4 linked regions of the Homo sapiens genome follow. The protein of the gene in region 2 purifies or fractionates together with the protein of the main gene of each other region. This does not show direct contact. Each region holds a gene or a part of one and is shown on either strand. Other genes may lie near its edges.

Evidence for each region.
Region 1: the proteins of PARP16 (region 2) and LRP5 purify together in Homo sapiens (affinity purification with mass spectrometry; 3 studies listed by BioGRID and IntAct, with this or other methods). This does not show direct contact.
Region 3: the proteins of PARP16 (region 2) and LRP6 purify together in Homo sapiens (affinity purification with mass spectrometry; 3 studies listed by BioGRID and IntAct, with this or other methods). This does not show direct contact.
Region 4: the proteins of PARP16 (region 2) and VWA8 purify together in Homo sapiens (affinity purification with mass spectrometry; 3 studies listed by BioGRID and IntAct, with this or other methods). This does not show direct contact.

Annotation. Positions count from the first base shown.
Region 1 is NC_000011.10:68,440,756-68,448,856, forward strand, and holds part of LRP5 (low-density lipoprotein receptor-related protein 5 isoform 1 precursor), read left to right. Parts: intron 1-4,817; coding exon of another isoform or gene 4,818-4,947; intron 4,948-5,680; coding exon 5,681-5,778; intron 5,779-6,171; coding exon of another isoform or gene 6,172-6,229; exon of another isoform or gene 6,230-6,402; intron 6,403-8,053; coding exon 8,054-8,101. UniProt on the Homo sapiens protein: Acts as a coreceptor with members of the frizzled family of seven-transmembrane spanning receptors to transduce signal by Wnt proteins.
Region 2 is NC_000015.10:65,269,884-65,277,984, reverse strand, and holds part of PARP16 (protein mono-ADP-ribosyltransferase PARP16), read left to right. Parts: intron 1-6,912; coding exon 6,913-7,050; intron 7,051-8,101. UniProt on the Homo sapiens protein: Intracellular mono-ADP-ribosyltransferase that plays a role in different processes, such as protein translation and unfolded protein response (UPR), through the mono-ADP-ribosylation of proteins involved in those processes.
Region 3 is NC_000012.12:12,178,944-12,187,044, reverse strand, and holds part of LRP6 (low-density lipoprotein receptor-related protein 6 isoform b precursor), read left to right. Parts: coding exon 1-122; intron 123-2,933; coding exon 2,934-3,065; intron 3,066-5,605; coding exon 5,606-6,002; intron 6,003-7,063; coding exon 7,064-7,235; intron 7,236-8,101. UniProt on the Homo sapiens protein: Component of the Wnt-Fzd-LRP5-LRP6 complex that triggers beta-catenin signaling through inducing aggregation of receptor-ligand complexes into ribosome-sized signalosomes.
Region 4 is NC_000013.11:41,565,734-41,573,609, forward strand, and holds the end of VWA8 (von Willebrand factor A domain-containing protein 8 isoform a precursor), read right to left. Parts: intron 4,974-7,876; coding exon 4,735-4,973; intron 2,663-4,734; exon of another isoform or gene 2,573-2,662; coding exon 2,464-2,572; 3' UTR 1,102-2,463; downstream 1-1,101. UniProt on the Homo sapiens protein: Exhibits ATPase activity in vitro.

The sequences.
Region 1 (8,101 bases), on a different chromosome or scaffold from region 2:
CTTCTTGTTTTCTTTTTCTTTTTTTTTTGAGACGGAGTTTCACTTTTGTTGCCCAGGCTTCAGTGCAATGGTGTGATCTCTAGGCTCACCGCAACCTCTGCCTCCCAGGTTCAAGCAGTTCCCCTGCCTCAGCCTCCCTAGTAGCTGGGATTACAGGCATGTGCCACCACGCCCAGCTAATTTTGTATTTTTAGTAGAGATGGGGTTTCTCCATGTTGGTCAGGCTGATCTTGAACTCCCTACCTCAGGTGATCCGCCCACCTTGGCCTCCCAAAGTGCTGGGATTACAGGCGTGAGCCACCGCACCTGGCCTTTTTCTTTTCTTTTCTTTTCTTTTTTCTGAGACAGGGTCTCGCTCTGTCACCCAGGCTGGAGTGCAATGGTGTCATCATGGCTAACTGCAGCCTCTACCTTCTAGGCTCAAGCAATCCTCCCATCTCAGCCCCTAAGTAGCTAGGACTGCACGCATGCATCCCCATGCCCAGCTAATATTTACATTTTTTGTAGAGATGAAGTTTCACTATATTGCCCAGGCTGGTCTCCAACTCCTGGACTCGAGCGATCCTCCTGCCTCGGCCTCCCCAGGTGCTGGGATTACAGGCGTGAGCCACCGTGCCTGGCCTGGGGTATTGTCTTCTTATGGCACCTGACTGTGGTGGGCCCTGGGAAGGAAGTAGCAGAAGAGGGTTCTTCTTGGTTTCCTGGACAGTAACTGAGTGTTCTGGAGGCCCCAGGGCCTGGCTTTGTTTAGGGACAAAGGGAACTGGTAACCAGAAGCCGAGAGTTTAAACACCCACTGCCCTTCTTCCCTGCTCCTGCTGCTGCAACCCAGCTTAACCAGCCAGGAGTGCTAGGAACCCAAGCAGGGCCCCCGAGCACACAGCAGGCAGCTCACGAATTCTCTTTTCCTGTTCTCCCTTGGGAGCTGGGAGGATCTTAATCAGGCAATAAGAGATGGCACTGAGCAGCCAGCTAATTTTTTAAATCACTTTATTGTTTAACCATATGACTCACCCACTTAAAAAAGGGTACAGTTCAGTGGGTTTTAGTGTATTCACAGATGTGTGCAACCCTCACCACAGTTAATTTTAGAACATTTTCCTGCCCCTAAAAGAAACTCTGCATGAAGCCAGCTGTTTTTAAATTAGCAAAGTTATTTTGCATCCTTTAAATATATGTTCATGGTACAAAATTCAAAAGATACAGAAGAGTCTGCAGTCCAAAGAGACTCCGCCCCCATGACGCCAAGCAGGACTCCCTGGGAGGCATGGCCTCCTGCAGTGTGTTTCTTCTATGTCCCCCCAGGGGTCATCTGTACATATGCAAGCATACAAGAGCGTGGACTTTGTTTTCCAAGCCAGAAGATAATTGTAGATTTATGTGCAGTTGTGAGAAAGAGCACAGACCCATTTATCCTCTGCCTGGTTTCCCCCAGTGCTGCCTGCCATCTTGCATGACTTCCATTCCTATCATAAGCAAGACACTGATAACGATTCTTTCACCTTATTCAGATTGACATAAGTGTTTTTTGTTTGTTCTTGAGACAAACTTCCTCTGTCACCCAGTGGGAGTGCAGTGGCACAATCACAGCTCACTGCAGCCTCAAACTCCTGGGCTCAAGCGATTCTCCTGCCTCAGTCCCCTCAAGTAGCTCAGATGGCAGGTGTGCACCATCATGCCAGGCTAATTTTTAAATTTTTTGTGGAGGTGAGGCCTCACTAAATTTCCTGGGCTAGTCTTGAACTCCTGAGCTAAAGTGATCCTCCTGCCTCAGCCTCCCAAAGTGGTAGGATTACAGGCATGAGCCACTGCGCCTGGGCTGACATATGTGTTTTCGTAAGCCCGAAAGATAGCATCTGAAGAGTCAACATTGAGCCTTGCCTTTTGCTGCTAACGATGTATAAAAGCTGCTGTTCTGAGCATTTCGGAGGCTCCCAGCTGCCGTGTGCACCCTGCCTAGAGCTCTACCGTAACCCATCTCCGGGAGGAGGTGCTATTGTTTTCCTCATTTTGCAACAAGGAGGCTGAAGAACTGAGCATGAACCACTGGCCTGGGTCGTTCGGTTGGTAGGCAGTGGGGCCAGGCCATCCAACTCACAACCACCTTCTACTCTGCTTCCCCCGCACCCTGAAGTTTGTTCTGTTTTGAGGACACAGCCGTCACATTCTTGGTGGCTGAACAGCACTCCTTGTCAGGCGTGGCTGGGCCCCCACTGGAGGGCATCATGGTCCTCTCTCCTGCTGCGGTTGAACCTTGGCTGTTTCAACCACTCCTGCCAAGTGGCCCTCTGAAAGGGACAGTCCATCTTTTCTCAGCAGAGGGCCACACTGGCAAAACGGTCCCTGGCACCCTTTCTCTCCACCTGTCTAATATAGAGTAAAAATGGTATCATGTTAAGATCTTCATTTATATTTATTTTATCATGAATGATGTAAGCATCATTTTGTGTGTTTAAGAACCTTTGGGCCCAGCGTGATGGCTTGCAGCTGTAATCTCAGCACTTTAGGAGGCTGAGATGAGCGGATCACTTGAGGCCGGGAGTTTGAGACCAGCCTGGCCAACATGGAGAAACCCCGTCTCTAGTAAAAATTTAAAAATTAGCCGGGTATGGTGATCCCAGCTACTTGGGAGTCTGAAGCATGAGAATTGCTTGAACATGGGAGGCGGAGGTTGCAGTGAGCCGAGATCGCGCCATTGCACTCCAGCCTGGGCGACAGAGCGAGACTCTGTCTCAAAAAAAAAAAAAAAAAAGAAAAGAAAAGAAATTATCAATCTCCTCTTTTATGGCATATATATATATATATATATATATATATATATATATATATATTTTTTTTTTTTTTGGTTATGTTCAGAAAGGCCTTCCCTGCTCTGATCATAAAAAACAACTTATTTTCACACTCTCTCTCTTTTTTTTTTGAGACAGAGTTTTGCTCCTGTTGCCCAGGCTGGAGTGCAGTGGCGCAATCTCAGCTCACTGTAACCTCCGCCTCCCGGGTTGGAGTGATTCTCCTGCCTTACCTTCCCGAGTAGCTGGGATTATAGGCATGCACCACCATGCCTGGCTAATTTTGTACTTTTAGTAGAGACGGGGGTTTCTCCATGTTGGTCAGGCTGGTCTCGAACTCGCGACCTCAGGTGATCCACCCACCTCGGCCTCCCAAAGTGCTGGGATTACAGACGTGAGCCACCATGCCCAGCCCACACTCTCTTTCTTAACGTCCTCCTCCTTTCGTTTTACGTTCACATCTTTAATTCTTCTGGGATGTAATTAGATTTGATGAGCAAGGTGGGCATCCAGCTTGTTTCTTGGCTGATGGCTTATGGGTGGCGTGAATTAGTCGGGGTCTATCAGGAGGCAGAAACTCTATGAGAATTTGAACAGAGAAAGTTCCGTCTACAGGCTTATTACCAGGGACTGGAATAGCAGAAATTGAACAGTGAGATGTACAGAGAACTCTAAGAATGCAGGAATAGGCCAGGCATGGTGGCTCACACCTGTCATCCCAGCACTTTGGGAGACCAAGGCGGGTGGATCACCTGAGGTCAGGAGTTCGAGACCAGCCTGGCCAACATAGTGAAACCCCATCTCTACTAAAAATACAAAAAAATTAGCTGGGTGTGGTGGCGCATGCCTGTAATCCCAGCTTCTCGGGAGTCTGAGGCTGGAGAATCACTTGAACCTGGGAGGCAGAGGTTGTAGTGAGCCGAGATCATGCCATTGTACTCCAGCCTGGGCAACAAGAGCGAGACTCAGTCAAAACAACAACAACGCAGGAATAGCAGATGAGCCGAGTGGCCTCCCCAGCCCCCACCCCCCACCCCCCACCCTGGGCCGAGATCCAGTCCTCTTTGAATAGGGCCTGGCCGTGGTTCACGGGACATCTGAGACATTGCCGAGGCGCTGCACTGGTGGATCTTGCCAGAAGTCTGCCCAGTGCAGATTTGGGCAGAATCTCAAACTGCCTTGGGATGTAGGAGAGAAACCAGGCCTGGTCAAGTTCATGGGAAGAGGTGGAAACAGACCCCATAGGCTGGGGCTTGGGCAGCTGTAGGAAGCCCTCTCTGCTGCCTCCCTGCCTGCTCTCTGCTTTGAAGCATCTTCCCCAGTGCCCCCAGTCTCATGCCCTCTCAACGTTGGGGTCAAATCCTGAGGAATACCCAGACTGGCTCTCTGGGCCAAAGAGGACCCTCTCCAGAAAGAGCAGGGCCCAGTGCGGCTTCCTAAAGGGCAGGGGAAGGGCCTGGCCACTCCCCAGAGGCTACTCACCAGCCATCAGGATAGCCCCAGGAAGCAGGCCTTCTCGAGCCCATTTTATTACTTTATTTTATTATTTTATTTAATTTTAAATTTATTTTTTGAGACAGAGTCTCACTCTGTTGCCCAGGCTGGAGTGCAGTGGTGCGATCTCAACCCACTGCAGCCTCTGCCTCCAGGGTTCAAGGGATTCTCCCACCTCAGCCTCCCAAGTAGCTGGGATTACAGGTGCCCGCCACCACACCCGGCTAATTTTCATATTTTTAGTAGAGATGAGGTTTCACCATGTTGGCCAGGCTGGTCTCGAACTCCTGACCTCAAGTGATCCGCCCGCCTCGGCCTCCCAAAGTGCTAGGTCAAGCCCATTTTAAAGTTGAAGAAACTGAGGCTGAGGTAAATTCCCTCCCCAGGGATCCTGCTGCAGCCAGAAGGTGGTAAAACAGGACTTCACCCGGGTCTGTCTGGCGTGAAAGGCAGTGTTCTTGTACCACCCTAGGGGGCCTGAGAGAACTGAGTCCCTCGGGCATAACTGACAGTTCTGTTCCCATTATTCCGCAGGGGCTCGGATCTGGCTGTATGCTTTCCAGGATGGCCTTGGAGACCCACATAAGCCCTACACCCTTTGGGAAGCTGCATGTTGGGTTGGGGTGCCGTCAGTGGCACTTGTGGAAGGTGCAGACCTGTGTGGGTGTGTGGGCCCAGGGCCCCTGGTCCCTTCCTCCCTTTGTAGGGCTGGTTGTGTGCTGCCTGGACCTGGGGGGCACGTTCACGTGGTGAATTTGTCTATTTACTATCCCCGCTTTGGGGCTGGTGCCAGCACAGGCCCTTGTGAAGGGGGTGCCTTTGTCTGGAGTGGGACTGTGGCCCCTCCCTCAGCGTGGTGACTTCTGTGTCAGGGCTTCAGCAGGGACGCAGAGCCCCTGAGTGTTCGGAACAAGGGCGTCATTGCAGGAGTTAGACTGTGTGTGATGGAGGGAGGAGGGGCAGGAGGAAAGGTCAGAAGGAGAGTTCCTGGGAAGGTCCCTGAGGAGCCTGGTGAGGTGCTAACTGGTGTGGAGGACACTCAGGGCCTGTGGGGACATCTCCTACTGCTGGGGGCCAGCCACAAAGGGAACTGGCCGAAGTCCTGTCCCCGCCTTCACAGCCCAGCATCTGGTCACAAGGCAGGTACTTGGAAGGGCGCGGGCACCTGGGCCAAAAGTGCCTGGGTTCCCTTTGCCTTTCACTGAGATGACCTTCGGGGCAGGTGGCTGCTGCCTCCCCTCCTGTCCCCAGGTTTTGCCAACTGGCCAGAGGAAGGGGTCCTGGGAAGCAGGGGGGCCAGAAGCCCTCTCTGCAAGGAAAGCCCGAGGGGTGTGGGAGGAAGGAAGGAATGCCCAGGCTGGCGAGGCTCTAAGTCACCCTGGCTTGGCTCTCCTCAGATCCTGAACCCGCCGCCCTCCCCGGCCACGGACCCCTCCCTGTACAACATGGACATGTTCTACTCTTCAAACATTCCGGCCACTGCGAGACCGTACAGGTAGGACATCCCCTGCAGCCCTCCATGGCCATTGGGTTCCCGCCAGCCCGTGGTGGAGGGGCCTAATCCCCATGCCACTGATGAGGGGAGGTATTCTGGGTGCTAGTGGGCAGGTGCCGGGCCCAGCCCTGCCTCCCTCTGCTCTGCCAACCACACTAGGCTGCCTCCCCAGACAAGCTCAGCGGGCACTGCATGTTGGGTTCAGAAATCAGCAGAACTCCACGTTCTGAGCTGCTCTTCAAGTTGCTCCTATGGGGGTTACTTTTAAGCTGGGAAATGGCTGTGGCGTCGAGGGGCCGGGGGCTTGGGCTCCAGAGTCTGACTGTGTGTTTGAGTCCGGCTGTGGAAACCTAGCCATTGAGATGCCCCCTCTTGGTGGCTCTGTCCTCTTAGGATGGGACAAGTCTGTGAAGGCTGCTGCAGCACCCACCGTAGACCCCTAATCGTGTGACGTCACCAGGATGGTCCGGGCTGCTCACTTGCCACAGTGGCCTGTTTGAGCCCGGGAAGCCAACGGGGCTGCTCAGCTGGACACCAGCCCCCCGAGCTGCCCATGTTGGGGTCACAGGCCCCACCTCCCTGGTTGGGGAGGGGCAACTGAGAGTGTGGAGAGGTGGGACCCAGGTGTGCTGGTCTCCGCAGGGGCTGGATCAGAGCCTGGGATGGGCAGGGTGAGCCTCCTGACCTTTAACCCAGTGGTGTCAGGCAACGTGGCCCACCCGCCAGCCGCACCAGGCCCCACCCCCGCAGGTGAAGGGGTGGGATAGGCTGGGCCTGGGCCAGGACACCTCTGGACCACGCATTCCTCATTGCTTGGGTCCCTGGAGCAGCAGGGCCTCCCGAGTGTGGTGCCGCCTGCCACCTAGTGGCCATTTCCACGAACTCCCAGGCCTGGCTGGGGAGCCGGAACTGCAGCCTCCATTTCCACCCCACTCCGGGTCGGGCCACCTCCCTGATGCCTCAGTATTATATCAAACTGTCACAGTCTGTCCCACAGCCTTACAGACCACTGTCTCCAGAATGGTCACATCCACACTGGGCAGCCCAGTCTCGCTAGTTCCTCGTCCCACCTCCTGCCTTTGCTCATGCCCGTCCTGCTCTGGGCCCACCGCGGACACATCTTCCCCCCGCCCGCCGTCTGACCTCACAGCAGCTGGGCCCCAAGAGGAGTATCCTGTCCTGCTGCACTTTTCTCAACACCCGGTGTTGGCTGCACCTTCCCACCCATTGCAGGCCCCTCTGTGACAGGACGGGGGCTCCTAAACACACCACAGTTCCGAGTCTGAACTCACACAGTGGGATGCGGCGTTTCTGGGCCACAGTTGGGTGCAGGTAGCCTCTGGGAGGATGGGAGGTCAGGAGCCATCTTGCGAGTCAGGTTGCTTGAACTCAGGATGGAAGTGTTCCGGGCCCATTGGTTGCTGTATTAGCCTGTTCTCACGCTGCTAATAAAGACATACCCAAGACTGGGTAATTGTAAAGGAAAGAGGTTTAACGGACTCACAGTTCCACCTGCCTGGGGTGGCCTCACAATCATGGTAGAAGACAAGGAGGAGCAAGTCACATCTTACATGGCTTCAGGGAACAGACAGCATGAGAACCAAGCGAAAGGGGTTTCCCCTTGTAAAACCATCAAGTCTAGTGAGATTTATTCACTACCACGAGAACAGTATGGGGGGAACCACCCCCATGATTCAATCATCTCCCACTGGGTCCCTCCCACAGCACGTGGGAATTATGGGAGTACAATTCAAGATGAGATTTGGGTGGGGACACAGCCAAACCCTATCGGTTGCCAACATTTACAGTAACAGTGTTAGGTGAACAGTTGTCCAGTCTCCTGTTTTGTCGGACACTGTTTCTAGCACCTTCCAGGCAGAATCTCATGTATCCTTCACTTTCGAAATGGGTACTATTTCATCCCCACTTTTATCAATGAGAAACTAAAGCTCGAAGAGGTCAAGTAAGTTCCTGGCCAAGGTCAGCTAGCAGGCTCTAGAGGCCTCGTTCTCCTTAGAGGCAGCCTTGCCAGGGCCCAGGCTTGGCAGGCTGCAGGGCAGGTGCGGGCATGCCCATGGTAGAGGTGGGACCATTGAGGCTCAGAGAGGGTAAGTGATGAGCCCTGGCGACACAGCGGGGTGGGTCCAGAGTCCGGCCTGCATCTTCTGGAGCTGGCCAGTGGACAGGCCTTTCCCGTTCACAGCCCCGGGGCTGCTGTGCCCACCAGGGCGGATGTGCCTACCGAATCCCACTCCTCTGTGTGTGTCCCTTTCAGGCCCTACATCATTCGAGGAATGGCGCCCCCGACGACGCCCTGCAGCAC
Region 2 (8,101 bases):
CCAGTTGGCAAATGCCTTCCACTGCCATGTACTGATGTGTGATTCAGAATGCTTGCCTAGATGGTGATTTCTTCCACATACCCCTATACTGCATATTACATACATCTTTCTCCCTACCTTTGGCTTAGGCACAGCCAGTAGCTGTCTCAGTTGTATTATTTTGGGATTGGGGGGAATTCCAATATCATACCTGATTAGCTTCCCAAAGCAGTCTCTTAAAAATTCTGCCAGAATTGTTCCTTTGGGCTAAAATATTCAGTCCACCACTAAATTTCTCCATTCATTTGGTAGGAGTGTATGGCAGGAGAATAGACTCTGGAGTCGGGCCACCTGGCTTCATATCCCCACCCTGCCACTGAATAGCTGTGTGCCCCTAGGCAAGGTGCTGAGCATCTCCAAGCCTCAGTTTCCTCATCTTCAAAACAGGTTATGAGAATAACATGAGATAACAATAAATTCATGCAAAGCATTTATTCTGGTGGCTGGCACCTGTAAGGGTTCAAATTAATAGTAGCTATTACTCTTTTGTTCTTAACTTCATGCCAGGTTCCAGGCTGGCATGGGGATCCAGGGTAAGTAAGATGTGGTTGGCCTCAGGGAGTGTTTGTCCCAACCAGATATGAGTTGGCCCCAGAGGGTCAGGTACCAACATGGGGCTCTGCTGTATTGCTGAACACAATAGAATACAATTATTGAGTACAGAGGTTGTAGGTGGTCAGGGAAGGCTTCACGTGGGAGGTGACTGCTGACCTTGAAGACTCAGTGGGATGTCATGGTAGGCAGCCACAGAAGCACAGAGGAAGAAAACCATAGGTCACATGAGGAATAGCATTGGGGGTGGGGAGGGAGTTAGTGGCAGGAGGTACTGTTAAGCAAAGAGGCCAGACTGGATTCCTAAGTGCCTTATTAAGGGTAAGATTATTAGATTTAGCAAATAAAAATATAGGCCACCTAGTTAAATTTGAATTTAAGATGAGCAACCAATAATTTTTTTTTTTTTTTTAGATGAAGTTTGACTCTTGTTGCCCAGGTTGGAGTGCAGTGGCGTGATCTCGGTTCACTGCGACATCCACATCCCCGGTTCAAGCGATTCTCCTGCCTCAGCCTCCCAAGTAGCTGGGACTAAAGGTGTCCGCCACCATGCCTGGCTAATTTTTTGTATTTTTAGTAAAGACAGGGTTTCACCATGTTGACCAGGCTGGTCTCAAAGTCCTAACCTTAGGTGATCCACCCACCTCAACCTCCCAAAGTGCTGGGATTTTAAGTATGAATATGTCCCAAATATTGCATGGGTTATTTATACTAAAAAAAATTTGTTGGCTGAACACAGGGGCTCATGCCTGTAATCCCAGCACTTTGTGAGGCTGAGGCTGGTGGATTGCATGAGCCCGGGAGTTTTGAGACCAGCCTGGACAACATGGTGGAACCCTGTCTGTACAAAAAATTAGCTGGGCATGATGTCACATACCTTTAGTCCCAGCTACTCTGGAGGCTGAGGTGGGAGGATTGCTTGAGCCTGGAAGGTCAAGGCTGCTGTGAGCTGTGATCTTGCCACTGCACTCCAGCCTGGGTGACAGAGTGAGACCCCATCCCGTCTTTAAAAAAAACAAAATGGGTCTTTTGTTGTTGTTGTTGTTTATCTGAAATTCAAATTTAACCGGGCAGAGCGTATTTTAAATGGCAACCCTACTTGTGTGCCTGGTTCCCAAAAGGCCCTGCTAAAATGCAGACAGGTTTTAGTCACAAGAGGAAGAATCCTATTAAATTGTTGAAGCAGATTTATTTTTCAGAGTAACACGCAAAGTGAAATGGGACATAAAGAAGGTCAGTTGAGGAATTAAAGAGTGTGGACAGATGGTGGGGAGCAAGGAGGGCAGGATGCAGCAGGGACCCTGTCTGGGCAGATGCAGTAGGAGGGCCGGGAAGAGGCCTGGGTCCAGCTTGGAGCTAGGAGGCATCTCTCCCCTTTGTCCAGACTGAGTCCCTGAAAGGCACCTGGCTAGCTGACTGTCCTTTTGTGGGGCTCTCTGGGCCTAGATATGGACTGTTGACAAGGGCTGTGACTCACAGGTGGGATTTGAGGACACGAGTGATGGGAATAGTAGTAATCTTTGGAGAGAAGATGACTCAGCTCTGGCTCTGAGATAACAAGGAATAGAAAAGAAGGAAGGGGGATGAGTGCCCTTTGGACTGTGCAGGCAGCAGTCCTGTATGGGTAAGCTACCTGAGGGTACACCATTTGGGATATGTCTTCAGTGACTCTGTATAACCTACAGAACAAAGCTTGGGGTTCCCAAGTGGAGTACAGGGTCCTTCACAGGATCATTTGAGATGACCTCACTTGAGGTCACCTTCCCACTCTTCCTCTTGGCAGCCACTTCCCCACACTCTAGGTTCCAGCCACACAGAATTACCTGTTGTTAATGATGACAGTCATGGCAGTCACACTAACATTAGAGTACTTAATACTTTCCTGTTGGTTTGAGCACTTGTTTAACTTGATTAATCTCCACCGGGACCCTATGAAGTAGCTACTGATATTATCCCAATTATGTATTTGAGAAAGCTGAGACACAGGAAGTCAAACATCTCACTAAAGGTCACACAGCTAGTAGAGGAATAGAGCCCCAGATGCCTGGGAGAACTGCACAATTAACCATGCCACCACCCACTTCCCCAGCTACATGCTGCGCTTTTATACTTCTGTGGTTTCATATAGCAAACCCAGATCATACAGTACCTCCTCTGTGAAGCTGGTCCCAACCCCACCCCCTTTTCCTTTAGCCCCTACGCAACAGGAGTCCCACCTTGTCCTCTTAGTAGTTTGTATCCAACTTTGTTACGACAGTGAATGCTGCTTTTTTTTTTTTGAGACAGGGTCTCGCTGTGTCACCCAGGCTGGAGTGCAGTGATGGCTCACTGGCTCACTGCAACCTCTGCCTCTGGAGTTCAAGGGATTCTCCTGCCTCAGTCTCCAGAGTAGCTGGGATTCAGGTGCCTGCCACCACGCCCATCTAACTTTTATATTTTTAGTAGAGATGGTGTTTTGCCATGTTGGCCAGGCTGATCTTGAACTCCTGAGCTCAGGTGATCCGCCTGCCTCGGCCTCCCAAAGTGCTGGGATTACAAGCGTGAGCCACCACGCCTGGCGACAATGAATACTTTTAAGTCATTATTATTTACCTTTCTGCCTCCCCACTTGATTAAGGGGCCCATTTTAAATCTAATGCCTCCTCCTATAAGCACAGGGCCTGGCACAAAGTAGATGCTTAGTAAATGCCCCCTGAATAATGCAAGGCCATGCAGCCTGGGGGTGAAGCAGGTGGCGTGGAACAGTAAGCAAGGCATAGAAATAGCACCAATACTCATGGAGCATTTGCACTCCACACATCCTTTTTTTTTTTTTTATTCGAGACAGGGTTTCACTCTGTCACCCAGGCTGGAGTGCAGTAGAACAATCATGGCTCACTGCATCTTCTACCTCCCAGGCTCTAGCGATCCTCCCACCTCAGCCCAAGTAGCCGGGACTACAGGTGTACACCACCACGCCTGGATAATTTTTTTTTGTTGTTTGTTTGTTTTGTTTTGTGGAGATGCGGTTTCGCCATGTTGCCCCTGCTGGTGTTGAGCACCTGAACTGAAGAGCTCCGCCCACCTCAGCTTCCCAAAGTGCTGGGATTACAGGCATAAGTCACCATGCCCGGGCTCACACATCCACTTTCAAAAAAAAAAAAAAAAGTATGCTGGGCTTGGTGGCTCATGCCTGTAATCACAGCACTTTGGGAGGCTGAGGCAGGAGGATCACTTGAGTTCATGAGTTTGAGACCAGCCTGGGCAGCATAGCAAGACCTCATCTCTACTAAAAATAAAAAAAATTAGCTGGGCATGGCGGCATGTGCCTATAGTCCCAGCTATGCAGGAGAATCACTTCGGGTGGGGGTGGGATGGATCCTGCAGTGAGCTGTGTTTGTGCCACTGCACTCCAGCCTGGGCAACAGAGCGTGACCCTGTCTCCAAAAAAATTTTTTCTTTTAATAAATATTAGATTTTCACTGATACCTCATGAGGCCTGTAGAGATAGTTGGTGTTTTTTGTTTTTTTTTTTTTTGAAACAGAGTTTTGCTATTGTTGCCCAGGCTGGAGTGCAATGGCATGATCTTGGCTCACTGCAACCTCCACCTCCTGGGTTCAAGCGACTTTCCTGCCTCAGCCTCCCGAGTAGCTGGAATTACAGGCATGTGCCACTACGCCCGGCTAATTTTGTATCTTTAGTAGAGATGGGGTTTCTCATGCTGGTCAGGCTGGTTCAAACTCCCGACCTCAGGTGATCCGCCCACCCCAGCCTCCCAAAGTGCTGGGATTACAGGCATGAGCCACTGCACCCAACCTGAGATAGTTTTATTACAATATATGAGGCTATTGATTGAATCTCTGGAAATAGAAATAAAGTGGCCCTAAGATGTTTTTAATTTCATTTATTTATTTTTAGAGCCATCTCACTGTGTTTCCCTAGCTGGTCTCTAACTCCTGGCCTTAAGAAATCCACCCCAGCCTCCTGAGTAGCTAGGATTATAGGCATGAGCCCCCACACCTGGCTCTGTTTCTAATTTTCAACTACAGAGCTAAGAAAAACTCCCAAAGTCAGTAATAGTCAATTTTCTAGAAAAATGGAAAAGAACCACAGGTATTCTTTTTTTTTTTTTTTTTTGAGACAGAGTCTCTCTCTGTCACCAGGCTAGAGTGCAGTGGCGCCATCTTGGCTCACTGCAACCTCCGCCTCCTGGGTTCAAGTGATTCTTTTACCTTGGCCTCCCGAGTAGCTGGGACTACAGGCACATGCCACCACACCCAACTAATTTTTGTATTTTCAGTAGAGATGGGGTTTCACCATGTTGGTCAGGATGGTCTCAATCTCTTGACCTCGTGACCCGCCCCCCTCAGCCTCCCAAAGTGCTGGGATTACAGGTGTGAACCACCACACCGGGCCACCACACAGGTATTCTTGAAGTGCCAACTACATCCCTTGCAAAGCAGAAGGAAAGGTTGCCAGGGTTTGGGAGGACAGTGTTGTCTGGGGAGAAATGTAAATGGAAAGAAAAGAAATGGACATATATAGACCAAGCCCTGAGATTCTGTGACCTTCTTCAAACTTCCTGACAACCCCTTGGCGAGGTAGAGAGGTGCCCTTGTTGGAGAGGAGATAGAAGCTCAACAGAGATTCCAACTGAGATCTGATTCCACAGTTCATGCTGTTTCTCTGCATCCAGGAAAGAGGAGAATTGGAAAAACACAAGACAGTTCTTGACCTCCAGGTGTCTGGCCATACTTGGAAGGGAGAACTGGGGCAATGGGCTTTAGGGGCTTAGAGGAGAGAGTGGTCTCTTGGATCAGAAGTGCCTGGGTAGTAGAGGTGGGGGAAGGGGTATTCTTGGAACAAGACATGCTCCTGAATAGAACCAGTCTGTGATGGGGAGGGGATGGTAAGGGGTTGAGATTAGGCTAGAGGTGTTTAAATGCCATGCTGGAGAGGTTTGACCTCTAGTCAGTCATAACTTCTGAGCAAAAGCTACAGATACTTTGTTGCTATCTGTTAGTCCAAGTCCCCAGTCCCTTATCAGAAATCCTGGCACTGAATATGTTTCAGGATTCCGATTCTTCCTGATTTTAGAATGGTAAATAATGTGCTGCAATGACAACTAGGCTGAGTCCTATCACAGGTCCCACGGGACATCAGCCTAAATCCAAAGGCTCTAGGACTGATGACAGCTTTCAGCAGCACAGCATTAGGCACTGTGTTTCTGTGGAAGTCCTTGCAGTGGTCCACATAGAGGTCCAAGAGCTAGTCTTTGCCCCCAAAAGTGAAAACTTGGGAGTAAAGAGATGAGATCCACATGGGGTGGGTGCAGGAACTGCTCTGGCCTAAGTGAAGCTCCATTTTCCTCAGAGGCTGGTCTCACTCATGAGAATGTCATCAACAAAGCTTCCAGTGTTCCAACAAAACATTGTCACACTCTGGGAAACCCAAAGTTATGCATTCCCCATTTACAGTTCCTCCCAGGCCAGATGCCGTGTACCATGCTGGGTCATTTTTACCTTAAGCAGTGTTGCCTGATTACGTATGTAGTTGTCATACTACCTTTATCCAGTCTCCAGGGGAACAACTTAACAGAAGTTAACTAATTCTCACACAGAAAGGAAAAGGCTTTGTAATGTAGCGCTTTACCCACATGTGCATGTATCATGTATTCAGTCACACCTCCAGTGGGTGGCATGCCATACTCATGGCATGTTAATATTCCTGCAGCAGAATGCACTGATACTAACAGGAAGGGGATAGGTAAAGATTAAACCTCACATCAGCTCAGGTCAGGTTTGGTACCCAAAGAGTTTAAAAAAAAACAAACCACCAAGGCTGGGCATGGTGGTTCACGCCTGTAATCCCAGCACTTTGGAAGGCCGAGGCAGGGGGATCACTTGAGGTCAGGAGCTCGAGACCAGGCTGGCCAACATGGTGAAACCCCATCTCTACCAAAAAATATGAAAAGTAGCCAGGCGTGGTGGCGTGCGCTTGTAGTCCCAGCTACTCGGGAGGCTGAGGTGGGAGAATTGCTTGAACCTAGGAGGCAGAGGCTGCAGTGAGCCAAGATCATGCCACTGCTCTCCAGCCTGGGCGACAGAGTGAGACCCTGTCTCAAAAACAAAACAAAAACCCACCAAAAAAAAAACCTTTCAGATTTTAGAGCTTGTAAAGTTTAGTATTATTTGGAAAGGGGATTGTAGACCTGTGAATTTCCTCTCAGGAGATCCCTTGAGACGTGCAACAAGTGAACGTTGCCTGCCTTCCCACTAGAGGGCCCCTGATTATCACTGTGTCCGGGATCCTTGCTAATGGAAGTTCTTCCGTCGCTTCAGCTTGCAGATGCCAGCAAGTTACCTAACCTGAAAGAACTTCTCCAGTCCTCCGGAGACAACCACAAACGGGCCTGGGACCTGGTGAGCTGGATTTTATCCTCAAAGGTCCTGACAATCCACAGTGCAGGGAAGGCAGAGGTGAGACTTTGGTCCGTAGCATCACAGATTTTAGGGGCCTAAGGGCTCTAGGACAGCACTGAATCCAGTGGCTCTGAGACTTCCCTGTGTACCAGTGACCTGGGCAGCTTGAGAATGCAGAGTCCTGGTCCTCACCTTTAGACTTTCTAGTTCTGTGTCTGGAGTCAGGCCCAGGAGCTTTCCCACTGGCTGTACAAAGCTGAATTCTGTCTCATCTCAGCTGTGTGACCTTGAGTAGGTACCAGGTGCATTTCAGTCCCTCCGCTTCCTCATCTATAAAATGGGGATGATAATAGTATACTTCCATCAGGCACTGACTATGAGAATTGAATGAATTTTCACACTTTGAAAATGCCTAAGGGCACATACTAAGGGCTCAGTATGTGTTGGGATTCACTTTATTTAACAAGCACTGCTGGTAATTCTGATTAGGGTGACCCTGACCATACCTTAAGAAACTCTGACCTAGTTCAGTTATCAGGAGATGGAGAGGCAGAACTCAAAGGAGTGGAAAACCTCATGCTCTGGGTTCAAATCCCATTTCTATCGAAAAGGGCCTCCTTTTTTCCATTTATAAATTGAGATGCTGATAGTTACCTCAAAGTGGGGCACTGATAAAATGTGTGTCACCCCCCCAGCACAGTTTCTGGCACAAGTCAGACATTCCATAATTTGGTTTACCTTGCCTGGCTGGGGTCTCCCAGGGACAGGCTGGATAACAAGGACCAGGGTGTAGGACTTGATTCCTGCTCTGGTGCTCTTCCTTTACCCATACTGTTCATCACTTAATTCATTTCAATTTAAGAGTAATCAATTTTACAAGCTCCTGCCAAAGACACACATCTTTCCTATGTGGCGTAGAATTTGGTACCTTGGATTCTGGTATCTAAGGGACATTCTTCTGTGTTAGATGTTAAAATACCATAAAGAGCCCTGGAGGTGGGAGTCAGGAGATCTGTATTCAGTTCCAGGCTGGGTGGCTAATTCCTAGTGAATCTCTGGGTTTCACTGTTGTTATGTGTTGAATTCAAATTTATTCATTCATTTATTC
Region 3 (8,101 bases), on a different chromosome or scaffold from region 2:
CTGGAGCACACACTCCATTTTGGCTTGCAACAAGTATACTGGTGAGGGTCTGCGTGAAATCCATTCTGACATCTTCTCTCCCATGGATATACATGCCTTCAGCCAACAGAGGCAGCCAAATGGTAAGTGATCCTTGATTTTTAAATTGCAAGTTGGAACAGCTTTGTAGCACTCTAATGTCTGGCTTTAGTGAGGATCAGGAGGAGGGAGGGCATATCCAAAGATAGTTGGCGGGAATAAAAAAGAGTTAAAATCCTACTTGGGAGGCTGAGGCAAGAGAATCACTTGAACTCGGGAGGCCGAGGTTGCAGTGAGCTGAGATTGCGCCACTGCACTCCAGCCTGGGAGACAGAGAAAGACTGTGTCTCAAAAAAAAAAAAAAAAAAGTTAAAATCCCAGCACTTTGGGAGACTGAAGCAGGCAGATCATATGAGGTCAGGAGTTTGAGACCAGCCTGGCCAACCTGGTGAAACCCTGTCTCTACTAAAAAATACAAAAATTAATGGGGTGTGGTAGTGTGCACCTGTAGTCCCAGCCGCTTGGGAGGCTGAGGCAGGAGTGTCACTTGAACCCGGAAGGTGGAGATTGCAGTGAGCCGAGATTGTGCCACTGCACTCCAGCCTGGGCAACAGAGCGAGACTTTGCTCAAAAAAAAGGGAAAATGTAAAAGTATAATTCAGGTTAGGCAATAGCCTAGACCATTTTGTAGCCTGTCACTACAGACCACCTCAGCCTTTTTGAGTCAGCGCTTTTAGAGGTGGAGAAGAGAGAGATAATTTAAAAATTGAGATAGCTTATATGCTAGGCTTATACACAAATGAGTTTTTTTGTTCATATTATTTCTTTCAGTATGTAGTTGAATGTGTTGATGTGAGTGTGTTTAAAAAACAAACTCTTGGGCCAGGCGCGGTGGCTCATGCCTGTAATCCCACACTTTGGGAGGCCAAGGCAGGTGGATCACTTGAGGTCAGGAGTTTGAGACCAGCCTGGCCAACATGGTGAAACCCCGTCTCTACTAAAATAACAAAAATATTAGCCAGGCGTGGTGGCGTGTGCTTATAATCCCAGCTACTTGGGAGGCTGAGGCTGGAGAATCGCTTGAACCCGGGAGGCAGAGGTTGCAGTGAGCCAAGATCACGCCATTGCACTTTCAGCCTGGGCAACAAGAAAGAAATTATGTCTCAAAAAAAAAAAAAACAAAAAACACACACACACACAAAAACGCCTCTTCTTTTTAAATGAAAACTCTGTTAATCTAGAATATATTTGAATTTAAGTACCTCAGCTTGCTAAATAAAATACCTACTTAAACTTTTCTGTGTACCCCTCCCACCTTGTTTTCCTTAGTTTTGGTTCTGTGTTTGGTCAGCCTTTACAATGACTCGGGCTATGACTGCTGAGAACTTGTAAGAGAGGACTGGAATTAGGTTTAAAAGGAATACGAGAATGTTAAGGGTTTGGCACTTTTGTGTAAATAAATGTCTGGCATCTGTCTGAGTGTATTTCAGATTTTATTACATAGCCAAAAATGAAGAGATTTTGCAACATATGTTGCTTTATATTAGCTCTCCATTTAGGGGGAGATAATCAAATATTGAAAGTGTTATGTTGGAATCTGATGATCATGAGCCCATAAAAATGTTTTTAAGTGTATGTGTTACTCTTCTGTACAAAAGAAAATGTTCAGTCACTTGTATGAATTTTTTTATTCTTCATAGCCCTCAAAAGAGAATTTTCCCTGTTTTTTGTTTGTTTTTTGAGATAGAGTCTTGCTCTGTTGTGCGTTTATGTGATCACGGCTCCCTGCAGCCTCGAACTTCCAGGCTCAAGTGATCTTTCCACCTCAGCCTCCCTAGTAGCTGGGACTACAGGCATATGCCACCACACCTGGCTAATTTTAGTATTTTTTATAGAGGTAGGGTCTCACCATGTTGGTGACCCAGGCTGGTCTCAAACTCCTGGGCTCAAGTGATCCACGCACCTAGGCCTCCCAAAGTGCTGGGATTATAGTCACGAGCCACCGTGCCTGGCCTCTTGTTTTTCTTTTTAAATGGCATTGTTGGTCCTTTATGTTTTACTAATTTGAGAATTTGCAGTTATCTTTCATGTTGGTTACTTTTATCTTTCATGTTCCATTGGTCTCCATCTTATGTTGATTTTTTTCTATGAGTATTGTTTGGACATATCCCTTTCCATAATTTCCAAAGTTTGCTAATTAGTTTTCTCTGATTTTCATTTTCCCCTTTTTTCTGCTTATCCCTTCTATGTTAATCTTCCCAAGGCATGACTTTTCAACATAATTACTTTTCTTGGCTTTCAGTGTCCTTCACTTTAATCTATTCCCATTCTTTGTATTCATTCAGCTTTAGTTCCTATTAGTCAGTAGAAACCTTAACCTCCAGTTATACTGTTCACCTTAATATCTTACCCAGTTTATAGCCCCCAAAGTTTTATTCAGATAGCTTTACCATACTTGAAATGTCCTCTTATCTATCCTTCCTATCCTTGAAGGCTCCCGTGCTGTATACTCCACAAAGCTCTTCTTCAATTCTTTAAACCTCAGCGGTTTTTTTCCCATTTGACTCTGTACTTATTGTCTATAATGTGCAAAATAGCACTTAGTTTTATTGGTTTTGTTTGTTTGTTTGTTTGTTTTTAGTTTTGCTTTTTGTTAATTTTGTTTAACTGACTAAATTGTAACCTCTTTTAGGGCAGGGATCTCCTGCTTTACTTCTTGTGTATTCCTCTTTGGTTACAAAATACTAAGTAAATTCACACTGATTAATTCCTGTCTTTGCAGATGGTTTGATAGTCAAGCACCTGCATGACATTTGGTAATAATTTTGGCTTATCACAGTTGTTCATGTTATGGTTGTTAACCTTTGTGTACTTAGTAATCATTGATATTAATCAATGTGATTTATATTTGACAGCCACAAATCCATGTGGAATTGACAATGGGGGTTGTTCCCATTTGTGTTTGATGTCTCCAGTCAAGCCTTTTTATCAGTGTGCTTGCCCCACTGGGGTCAAACTCCTGGAGAATGGAAAAACCTGCAAAGATGGTAAGAAGATATTATCCAAAATGAAAAATTTTATAACTATTGGAATTCTTCATGATTTGTTTTCTCTATAATCAGCTCTCTAGGTTATACTGCTTTGGGAGACCAGTCACTTAATTTCACAGTCTTCACACATGGTTATAGAATAGGAGTGTTTTGTTCTGTGGCATCACTTGAATGCTATTTTATAAATTATTTTAGTGTTTTAAATAACATATTTTTGAAAAAAGTTACGTGTTGTATCTTTTCTGTCAAATCTCATAGTCATTGATATCACAGTTGATAACTATGGAAATGAGTAGTCGCATAAGGAATATATTTTTAACAGGTAGCATTTGTGAATAAAGAACCTCTGTGAAAGAAAGTATGTTTATTAAACTTTTAGCTACAAAGAATATCATGAGATATATTTTATAACAAATTATTTAAGGATGTTTTAAATTGCTTTTTAACAACAGAGAGATGCTTTCAGAGCTGGGAAAAAAAATCCATATTTAAAACAACTTCTTTTTATACTTAAGAAACACACTTTGCCTGTTCTCCTTACTCTTAATTCCCTATAGAGAGAGGGCACGTTGGAGAAAGTATACTGATTTAGGACATTTTAAGGGACTTCCAGTTTGGAAGAACACCAGTTCTTCTGTTTTTCTTCTTAATGAGAATGTTATTCTTCATTCTCACCCCTATGGATCACCATCTGGTTCTCTAGCAACCAGCAAGACCTGGTAAGAAAATTGTTGTATTTAGCTGTGGCTTCTTTATCTAACTCTGAAAAGCAGAAGCCTGTGTTTTGGAGTGTGTTAGAGTCCCTGGCAAGGGGGCCAGGGAGTCAGAGAGATGGAATTGAGTCTGTGTACAGGATGTTTGTTATGACTTGGCATTGATAAATTATCCTCATAGTAAAAGGTGAAGCTGGCTGACTCTTGGTCAAATGGTTTCCATGGCAGACAGCAATTTGGTTTCAATTTAAAACAAAAGGTTTTTGTAATGTTGCTTTTTTCTTTAAAAATGTAGCCTGACTTTAAAACAGAGGATTTATTTTAGCAATAATGGTCTATCTGCTCCCTCACAGCAGTGCAAGTGTACATATTTAACCAGTTTTGAATTTCATGTGTGCATTTGGCATGTAGTAGCCTTAAGTTAACTGTTCTGTTTTGATCACCTTGCTCAAATTAACAGCTCTATGACTTCTTTGTGAAGTTCTAGGCTGGCTCCTTTTGGTTGTTAGCCGGGGCAGTGAATTGTACAAAGTTATTCCTACTTGGTTCCTGCAGTGGCATTTGGGCTGTATTTTCTTCAAGTTGGAATTCATTTATAATTAGCTCTAGAGTGAAAGGGCTGATATTGAGAGGCTTCACTCCTCTTCTCAGTTTTTTGACTTGTAATTGCAGATTGATTCTTGAAGTTTATATGCCAGTATTTTGTTTTGGACTCATTTATTTAGCTGGGAATCTTTTCTTATTCTTTCAGTTGTCAATTTGCTTACTGTCTTTTATTAGCTTCCTATAGTTAGACGATTTTTTGCTGGTGGTTTACTTGAACAATTTAAAATGAAAAAAAGATTGAGCTCAGTATCTTCATTCTTGGTTATGTGGTTAAGTATTTGGGGCTTGGGCTTTAAACAGTTCATAAATAAACCTAATTTAAAATTCAGTGAAATAAAAATCTGAAAATCTTTATTTTTTAATACTGTTGTTAAGTATTAGTTAATATTTCTTGAGTACTTAAATGTTCAGTACTTTCCTGAGTTTTAGATTTATCTCCTTTAATCCTTACAACAACCTTACAAGGTATAGATGGGGAAACTAGGCTTAGCGAGATTAGATATTTTCCCAAAGTTTGTGTAGCTTCTTGAATCAAATTATATTGGATCCACAACTCTTAACCACTGTGTTATGTTTATCTGGTTCCTTCCCTCCATTGCAGCTGTTTGTTTCTCCATAGCTTGCTTTGTCCTCAATTCTGTGAGGTATTGCCCTGTATTTCTCTTTGTTAAGACAGTTTTACTGAGATGTAACTTACATAGCATATAAAATCCATCCATTTTTTAAATTGTACAATTCGGTGACTTTTTAGTAAATTTACAGAGTTACGCAGTTATCACCACAATCCAATTTTAGAACATTCCTATCAAGCACAAAGATTCTTGTCCTAAATTTCTTTATCTTTTTTTAAAAAATGCTTCTTGAACAAAGGATCTATATCCTACATTTCCTTCTCCTTTAATACTGAGCTACTTAGCTTCTTAGTCATTACATAGTCATTATTCATTGTACTTTTAAATAGCTGGATTAATTCCAATGAAACCATAGAATGTATCACAACTTAATTTGGAGAGTTAGCCATTAAACAGCTTGACCTCAGAGTAGACTCTTCTATTTCACTGTATTACTTTCCATTTCCACTCTAAAGAGAGTGCACATCCTTTTGTGTTAATTTATGTATATTTTATATTTATTTTTCAGTTCTTGATTCTTTATCTAGAGCAGGTAAATTTTACCTCTGGGTTTCAAAGTATTCTTCATTTCACTTTGTTGTTCTAGGTGCCACAGAATTATTGCTTTTAGCTCGAAGGACAGACTTGAGACGCATTTCTTTGGATACACCAGATTTTACAGACATTGTTCTGCAGTTAGAAGACATCCGTCATGCCATTGCCATAGATTACGATCCTGTGGAAGGCTACATCTACTGGACTGATGATGAAGTGAGGGCCATACGCCGTTCATTTATAGATGGATCTGGCAGTCAGTTTGTGGTCACTGCTCAAATTGCCCATCCTGATGGTATTGCTGTGGACTGGGTTGCACGAAATCTTTATTGGACAGACACTGGCACTGATCGAATAGAAGTGACAAGGCTCAATGGGACCATGAGGAAGATCTTGATTTCAGAGGACTTAGAGGAACCCCGGGCTATTGTGTTAGATCCCATGGTTGGGTAAGAAGCTCTACTGATAGTAAATTCTGTGTGGTGTTTCTGTTTTTCACAGGTTCCTGAAAACATTGACTAAGATAACATGACATATATATTGGTTTCCAGTAAACAGCTCTTTAATGGCTGTCTATTTTAGGATATGGTGATTAGAATACAATCTCAAGTTTAAAAATTGCTAGTTTTTTGCCTTGGATGTCTTAGATATTTTTTCTTTCTAAATTAAGTCCATGTTTGCTGACTTTGGGTGTTGTCTGCAGATTTTGCTCGGATTGCATCATTACCATGAAAAATGTGGGAAGAAATTGTTTTCAGAACTCTTTCCCTTCCCCTAGAAGCTTTAATTCCATTTTCAGTACTTTATAGTAAGAATATAGCTTACTTTTTTTTCCCTAAATACATGAATGACTTGATTTCCAAAACTTTGCCAGCCCATGCAGCTTTACTTCTAGTTTGTTGTTGTTGTTTGTTTTGTTTTGCCATGCCACCCTGATCATAGTCCAGGGAAGTACAACTTTTTACATACTCAACAATTTTGTTACTTTGAGATTTATTCTGAGGACAAGCATAGTGACAAATTACACCTCAGTATATACCAATGCCTTAGAGCCATCTAAACATCCAGGAGCCGTAAGAATCACTTAGCACTGCAGGAAGAAATAGTTATTTTGAGAATTCAGTTTGCCATCTGACTAATACTGCTGGGATAAGCCTTTTGTGTCAGAGAGATGACAAGCCATCAAGGAAAAGAGAGAGAAAGTTCATGGAAAAGGGCACACAAAATATTTAAAAAAAAAAAAAAAAAAAAGAAGTAAAACTGTAATCTCATTATTGGGAGGCATTTTCAGGATTGGCTCTAGAACACACTGATCTGAAAATTTCCCACAATCTTATATATTGCTGGGATAAATGTCTTAAACACCTCTTCATATGTTTTTTTTTTTTTCCCCTTCCTTGGCATTAACTGATGATACCAGTGTAATAGGAGGGATGGATCTCACCTTTAGAATATCTGAAAGTTACATTTTATTATCTATTTTTAGCTCATTTTTTGTATACTTCTCTAGGTACATGTATTGGACTGACTGGGGAGAAATTCCGAAAATTGAGCGAGCAGCTCTGGATGGTTCTGACCGTGTAGTATTGGTTAACACTTCTCTTGGTTGGCCAAATGGTTTAGCCTTGGATTATGATGAAGGCAAAATATACTGGGGAGATGCCAAAACAGACAAGATTGAGGTTTGTTTTTTGCTTTTTCATTTTCAAGCCACTTTTATAATGGGTTTTGAGTCGACAGTATAATGATTTGAGTACAGATATTCTTTTTTCTTAACAGTTGTCTGGGGTGCCAAAGGTACCTTTTACAGAAATTTTACTCAACCTTCATGATTCTAGGGATAATATATTCTCTTCCACATAATCCTAGGATGGAGAGATGTATTGGTATGAGAAATGGCTGCTGATCAGTTTCTAGTCTTAAAAGCTTATGTAAGTGATTTTCCTCATTTTGGGTAAAGCCACTTTCTGAATTTCCTAGGGGCAATTTCTGCAAACCAAAATTATGTAAGATCTATACTGGAAGAACTGGCTGTCCTAAGTTAGGAAAACAAAGCCCACATGTATGTGTATATCTATATCTATATCTATATCTATATCTATATCTATATCTATATCTATATCTATATCTTTTATTGCTGTTAACTGGTGTTGGGGCAGATGGTAGAATATATTAAATATTATGATGGTTACATGCAAACAATTTTAAAATTGATTTATGGGCTGTGTGGGAACAAGACTAATTAACCAAAGCTTGGGAAAAAATATTTACCAAGTGGTAGAGTTAAGTTTGTGGCAATCAAATAGATTATGGTGAAAATAATCAGTGATTAATATTTTATCACAGTGTTTTATTAGTGGCCTATATCCCTGATATTGGTGTTAAGTCTAAAATTAACAACTTTGAATTAGACTTTGCTACAGGTCTTATGGATCACATAGATAGAACAGAGTTAGGTCTCAATTTTCCTTTGGGGGAAACTTCACATACAAGGATGGCTTTAAATGGCTCTTCAGAGAGACACTGTACACATCTAATGGACAGAAAA
Region 4 (7,876 bases), on a different chromosome or scaffold from region 2:
TTAGGTATTGCAAGAAGTGAAAATAAGCTCTTCGTCTTCTCAGTCTCAATTCCCTTTCCCCATCATCCTTCCCCTTCACAAATCAGAAAAGCCAGGAGTACTGTGCTTTTTTAAAAATAGCAATTGCAGAGGATGTCTGGCTGGTCGAGAAAGGTAAATTAAATTACTTGAGAACATTCTTTCCATGTCAAAAAAAATGGCTTCTGCCTCCTCAGGTAGTTACGCATGGGGAGGATTTGCTAAAGGTTGGCTGTTCCTTTAATCTCCCTTGGATTCCACTTCCAAAGGCTTTCAGGGGCAGTGACCCGCTAGCTAAGGGGCATCCCTTGGGGTTAAGCTGCCACTTGGAAGGGCACTTCCTCAGATTGCTGCTGTGCCTAGCAAGGAAGCAGCAGTTAGAAGTGTTCCCCCGACAGTGTCCCATGTCCTCGGTCCCCACACCTCTGAGTGCTCGAATATGGGCAGATAGATAGACTTTCTGAGGAAAGGGAGAGGAAGAGAGCCCTGTGAATGTGGACAGGGTACAAGAAGAGAAGTCACACTGGAAGGAAGAGAAAAAGGCAGCAGGAGTGTGACATGTACATTTGTGAGATGCAGCAAGGGGCGTGGGACTGCGAGGGACGCAAAGGCATTAAGGGGCCTGGAGGCTGGAGGCCCAGCTTTGCCCCTGCCTGGCTGTGAGTGTGGCCTATTTTCTTGAACTTCTCTAAGCCTCAGTTTCTTTACTTGTAAAATGAGGATGTTAATGGTACCATGAATAGTTAGTGAAAGGTCTAGTAACAGGAATCTTGGGAAAGTGACTTAAATTCTCTGAGCCTCACTTTCTTTATCATCTGCAAAATAAGGTAAAAAATACCCCTGTTACATGCATTGTTGTAAGGATGAATGAAATAATGTATGCAATCACTTAGCATATACCTGGTTCACAGTAAATCATCAGTAAATGCTAGCTGCTGTTGTGGCGACCGTTGGAATGCAATTACATTTTTAAAGATACATGTTGGATTGAAATTGTTTGCATCATTGAATGGTTCAATACATGGAGCAGGTGTCTCACTAGAGGAACAAGAAAGCCATGCAAACTCACCAGGTAGTACCACGTTGGAAATCAGATTGCTTTTATTTATTTATTTGATAGTTAATGATAGGGAGAGGGGTGATAGAACAAATGGGTATTATCTTTTCTTCTTTCCTATAATTAATTAAAATGAAATTATGGACCTGTACAATTTCAATAGATATGGATGGATAGGATAATATTATTAATAATAGTTTTTCCAACTTAAGACCAGTTTTTTCAACTCACTGGTGCCCTAACGTTTCTGATTTTGCTATCAATCGTGAAGAGGAGTTTTTAAATTATATGGTTAAAGAGAGAATGACTTTTGCTGAAGCATCTTATTTTAAACAAAGTAATATTGAGCTTATTGATAAAATAAAGGTCAGCCCAAGAGTGTGTGGGAATAAGGTACATTTTGAAAGAAAAGAGAATGAGGCTTTAAAAAAAGTTGTTTTCTTTCTTTTTGTTACAGCTAAAAATTTCCAATCACCATTCACTTCAAATATACCACCTTGATTTTACTTTTTTTACTTTGCTTTAGGTAATTTTTATATGAATATTCTCAATAAATAATTTTCGTGTAAGCATTTATTATTTTGAGCATTACAGTTTGGACCCCAAAATGGAGTACTGTGAATTTTTTGAGAGATGCTAGAAGAACAGAAGAAACAGTAAACTTTTAAGGCAAGACATCTTTCTCCTCCCACTCTAGCAGCAAGGAGAAGAGGACATTTGCTCTTTAAGAGCCTTTTAAAAGTCACGTGGAAAGGCAAGCACTCCAAGGATTTTTTGATTCCTTTTGGCTTTGGCCAAGAAAATGAAATTATTGAGAACAGCCAGACTTTCATAAGATATTGCTGTTGGAGGGACTTTTTGGTGGGTTAAATATTATAAAATCATTGTTTTCTGGTCAATACAGAGCAGGGAGAAAATAAAAATAATTGTTGGATAGGAGCATTTTGGTGGGTTTTGCACAGACTTGCATCTTGTGTCAGAATGTGACATCAAAGGCTCAGTTTGATGGGGTCACTTTTCTAACGTGACCAGATGATGTGTTAAGGCAAAAGCAAAGTATTTTCTCCCCCTCAGGTTTTTGGAAATAGACCAAACACATAGTTCTCAAAACCACCTTCCTTTAACCCCAACCTTTGATAAAGTGCAGGTCAACTAGCTTGCCCTAATCACTTCTAAACTCATCAGTGGAGTATCTTTCCATGTTTAAGTCTCCTTCTGGCTGCTTCTCTGAATTCTCATTACGGAGCAAGTGTAGGAAGACCCAGGAATGCCGGAATCATCCAGTCACTGCATGGGTTCACTTCATCCATATCTTCTTTTTTTCAGAATACTCTTTATTCCTGTCTTATTTCAAATCCTGGTGTCATCAGGGTGATGAAGGGCACTTCTTAGACACTCGACAACATGGTGGAGGTGAAGATCTGTTGTAAAATCTGAGGGATATCCTTGGTATCCATGGCAACGAAAGACCGACCAGCTGGTAAAGTTCTCTGAAGCCTGCCAGGATGGAAAGGGAAAGGAAGTTACCACTGTAAATGGGGCTCCCTTCCACCTCCTGCCCTGGCAAACCACAGCCCCCTAATGGTTTCTTAGGAAAGGAAGTTTTTACTTTCTAATACCTTGCTCTCTGCCTACCATTGAATTAGTCGTCATTAAACAATGAAAGGCTTGGAAGAGCAACAAGGAAAGACACAGCAAAAGCAGGGAACTGAAAGAAAGGTCTTTTCAGTGAGAAAGTCAGTGAATTTGAAAAGAAAAAATTTTCTTCCTTTCTTTACTGCCATTTCTTGGTATTTCATATTCTTTTGGTATAACAGAGCCATAGGGATTCATATGGAATCAGCTCACCTCCCGGGTCTAGCAAATATGTTGACCTTACACTGTATTTCGAAGTGCTTTTCCTTCCTTAGAAAACAGGCCTCTAAAAACGCTGCGCAGCCAAACCCTGAGTGGTTCTTTCTCTCTTTCTTTGCCTCTCTCTCTTTTTTTTGGTCCACATCACACAATGTGAAATGCGATCTGGATTGTCCAATTACTGCTTCAATGACACTGAGGTTATACAGGCTTATGAAATTTTTTCCAACTCATTTTTAAGTGAATTTTAAAAAACTTATAATGGGTTTTGATTTGAATTATCCTTAAAAATAACATGTCATTGAAGTTACGATACTTTTTTAAATACTAATTTATAATTTGGAACAAAAGGCCATTTTGAAGGCAACAAAACTGTAAGACACAGTTCTCTTCAAAAGAACGCCTCCTTTCACTGTGCCAGTGAAGTCTGGCTTTGGAATGACATTTAATAAAATTCAACCATCCTGTGTAGTATCGTATATTTGGCATGCCTGGTAAGCCAGCTAATTCTGCAACATATCTTTTGCCAGTGGATGTTGGACCATTTCCCTAGGAAACCACAAGGGTATTATTGTGCTTTCTTAAGTATTCAAACAGGATCTGTTCACTAGAAAGACAAAATAGCCATTTCATCTCAACTAGTATTTGTTGAGCTTGTTGTCTGCCTAATACTGGGCTGATGCTGAGGAAAACCTGGGTGGAAAAGGCATAGTTTGTGTTTGAGGATGTGGAGGTTCTAAAAGATGCAAAGTGCTAACTTGTAAAAACTAAGAAGAATGAAAAGTCATGTCATAAAATGACTGTAACTACATGATATTAAGTCTGTTCTCAACCTCGCTCTGCAACCTTACAGCAAGGCAAAGGGAATAGAAAGAGAAAAAGCTGCTAGCATTTTGGATATTAAAACATTTCCAGTCACAGAGTATGAAAAGTAAAAGGGGTGGAATAACAAAAACGTAGGCCCTTTGTGCTTTAGGCAGGGATTTTTTTTTTTTTTTTTAAGATTACTTTCACTGGTGTTTTATGTTTCTTACAGGTATTTTAAACACAGAAAAACCATGAGCTCTTTCTGTTTGTAATTCAAAAAGATAAATGTTATTGTGTTCAAGTTATGAAAGTGTTTCCAGATCTCTCCTTTCAGATCATACCCACTGGTATTTATTGTCTGATCATAAGATTCTCTATTGAATATTTAGTATATTCAGTGTAGTATCTAACTATATGTATATTATCTTATGTTGTCGCCAAGTGTTTCACCTGCCTTGTCTCTCCAGCAATAAGAAGGGATACATGTGAGTGTGTCTATATATATATACAGGCATGCATATATGTAGGTGATGTCTCTATGGGGATATAATACATATGTGTGTATATATATGTCTAATATGTACAGACATTCATACACACACACTATCTCCTATGCTAGGAAAATAGTAGATGTTCACGATTTTTAATATGATTTGAACACAAAATGATTAGCCTGAGCTTAGGAGCTTGACATAAAGTGCCAAATGTATAAAATACTACCCGGTTTATTAGTGACAAATCAATTTGTCAATGATTTATTAGTGGCTTAAATATAAACTAAAAAATAATTAATTTAAAATTATTATTGTTCATCTAAACAAAAGCTAGAACATATCCCCTCAACTAGATTATAAACCCCTTGAGGCTAGTAACTTTAGTTTCTGTTTTTCCTCCATCTGCCTCACTGTCCCTCATGGTGCTAAGCCTATAAAACAGCATGTGTTAGCTACTCAGTATCTCTGTACCTGCCCTTTTCTGTATGCTCAGATGACACTTACCTGGTTGCTTGATCACCTAAAGAGCCAATAAAAATGGCAAAAGCATTTACTTGAGGGTCTCTTGTGAGGATTTGAGCAAACTTAGCAGGATGTATTCCATATCGTGACAGATTTGCATCACTCAAGACTATGACAAAGTACTCATCAGCTTCTTCTTTGACAATTTCCTTGATGGCATGTTCTGTCCCTTCTAACGTGTGGTCCCCACTCATGCAGAACTGAGAGTGGGCATGCATTGTCTGGAGGTAAAAGAAGTTGCACAAAAGCCATGGCTGAGAAACTTCTTTTTTAACAAATACGATTATTTTTCTATTGACCATGAGCATGCATACATACCAATTATTACCCATGAGTAGTACATTCTAAGTTAGTTCTATTTAATTTGCATATTTGAGTGACAACAGTATACAGTGATATTTGTTATCTGGCATAGAATTTCATTAGATATAGGATATCATTCCAAAATTATCACAGTGGGCACTTAGTTTTAAGTGGAAGCTTGCACTTCCACTTAAAGTGAGAAAATATAAGAAAATATAAAACTTGGTATCACATTGGAGGATGCAGATGACACAGGAGGAAAATAAGGAATGAGTTGAGTTTCCAATAAACAAAGGTATAATACTAAAAACATTGTACTCACGTCAATAACGATGGAGGAAAGTGACTTAAAATTGTGATGTGCATTTTTCTGTTGCAGGCTTAAGTGTGTGAAATGAATTACACATAAAATTGGGGACAGGGAGCACTCTAAAAGCGGTCATTCTGCTTACCAATGATATGATTGTATATCTAGAAAACCCTGTCCCTCTCCCGTCTCCCTCTCCCGTCTCCCTCTCCCTCCTCCCTCTCCCTCTCCCGTCTCCCTCTCCCTCTCCCGTCTCCCTCTCCCTCTCCCCGGTCTCCCTCTGATGCCACCAAAGTTGTCAAAGCCGAGGCTGGACTGTACTGCCGCCATCTCGGCTCACTGCAACCTCCCTGCCTGATTCTCCTGCCTCAGCCTGCAGAGTGCCTGGGATTGCAGGTGCCCGCCGCCACACCTGACTGGTTTTTGCATTTTTTGGTGGAGACGGGGTTTCGCCGTGTTGGCCGGGCTGGTCTCCAGCTCCTGACTGCGAGTGATCTACCTGCCTCCGCCTCCCGAGGTGCCGGGATTGCAGACGGAGTCTCGCTCACTCAGTGCTCAACATTGCCCAGGCTGGAGTGCAGTGGCGTGATCTCGGCTCGCTGCAACCTCCACCTCCCAGCCGCCTGCCTTGGCCTCCCAAAGTGCCGAGATTGCAGCCTCTACCCGGCCGCCACCCCGTCTGGGAAGTGAGGAGCGTCTCTGCCTGGCCGCCCATCGTCTGGGATGTGAGGAGCCCCTCCGACTGGCCGCCCAGTCTGGGAAGTGAGGGGCGCCTCTTCCCGGCCGCCATCCTGTCTAGGAAGTGAGGAGTGTCTCTGCCCGGCCGCCCATCGTCTGAGATGTGAGGAGCCCCTCTGACCGGCCGCCCAGTCTGGGATGTGAGGAATGCCTCTGCCCGGTGGCGACCCCGTCTGGGAATTGAGGAGTGTCTCTGCCCGACCACCACCCCATCTGGGAGGTGAGGAGTGTCTCTGATCGGCTGCCCCGTCTGAGCAGTGAGGAGCCCCTCCGCCCGGCAGCTGCCCGTCTGCGAAGTGAGGAGCCCCTCCGCCTGGCAGCCGCCCCGTCCGGGAGGGAGGTGGGGGGTCAGCCCCCGCCCCGCCAGCCGCCCCGTCTGGGAGGGAGGTGGGGGGCGCCTCTGCCCGGCTGCCCCGTCTGGGAAGTGAGGAGCCCCTCTGCCAGGCTGCCACCCCGTCTGGGAGGTGTACCCAACAGCTCATTGAGAATGGGCCATGATGACGATGGCGGCTTTGTCGAATAGAAAAGGGGGAAATGTGGGGAAAAGAGATCAGATTGTTACTGTGTTGGTGTAGAAAGAAGTAGACATGGGAGACTCCATTTTGTTCTGTATTAAGAAAAATTCTTCTGCCTTGGGATGCTGTTAATCTATAACCTTACCCCCAACCCCATGATCTCTGAAACATGTGCTGTGTCCACCCAGGGTTAAATGGATTAAGGGCGGTGCAAGATGTGCTTTGTTAAACAGATGCTTGAAGGCAGCATGCTCCTTAAGAGTCATCACCACTCCCTAATCTCAAGTACCCAGGGACACAAACACTGAGGAAGGCCGCAGGGTCCTCTGTCTAGGAAAACCAGAGACCCTTGTTCACATGTTTATCTGCTGACCTTCCCTCCACTATTGTCCTATGACCCTGCCAAATCCCCCTCTCCGAGAAACACCCAAGAATGATCAATAAATACTAAAAAAAAAAAAAAAAAAAAAAAAGAAACAGGCCGGGCGCGGTGGCTCACGTCTGTGGTCCCAGCACTTTGGGAGGCCGAGGCTGGCAGATCACAAGGTCGGGAGTTCGAGACCGGCCTGGCCGGCATGGTGGAACCCTGTCTCTACTAAAAATACAAAAAATTAGCTGGGTATGGTGACATGCGCCTGTGATCTCAGCTGCTCGGAGGGCTGGGACAGGAGAGTCGCTTGGGTGTGGGAGGCGCAGGTTGTAGTGAGCTGAGAATGTACCACTGCACTCCAGCCTGGGCGACAGAGCAAGACACCGTTTCAAAAAAAAAAAAAAAAAAAGAAACAAGCCAGGCACGGTGGCTGACGCCTGTAGACCCAGCACTTTGAGGTGGGCAGATCACCTGAGATTGGGAGCTCAAGACCAGCCTGGCCAACATAATGAAGCCCCATCTCTACTAAAGATACAAAACAAAACAAAAATTGGCCGGGCATGGTGGTGCGTGCCTGTGGTACCAGCTACTTGGGAGGCTGAGGCAGGAGACTGGCTTGAACCCGGGAGGAGGAGGTCGTAGCGGGCCGAGATTGTGCCACTGCACTCTAGCCTGAGCAACGGAGCAAGACTCCATCTCAAAACAAACAAAGAATAAGACCTAGTGTTAGCTAGCACAACAGGGTGGCTATAGTTTAAAAAAAAAAAAATATATATATATATATATATACCTCTCTCTATATATACGTGTATATATATATACGTATATATAAAATATATACACGTATATATATGTATATATATAAAATATATATACACCTCTATATATACG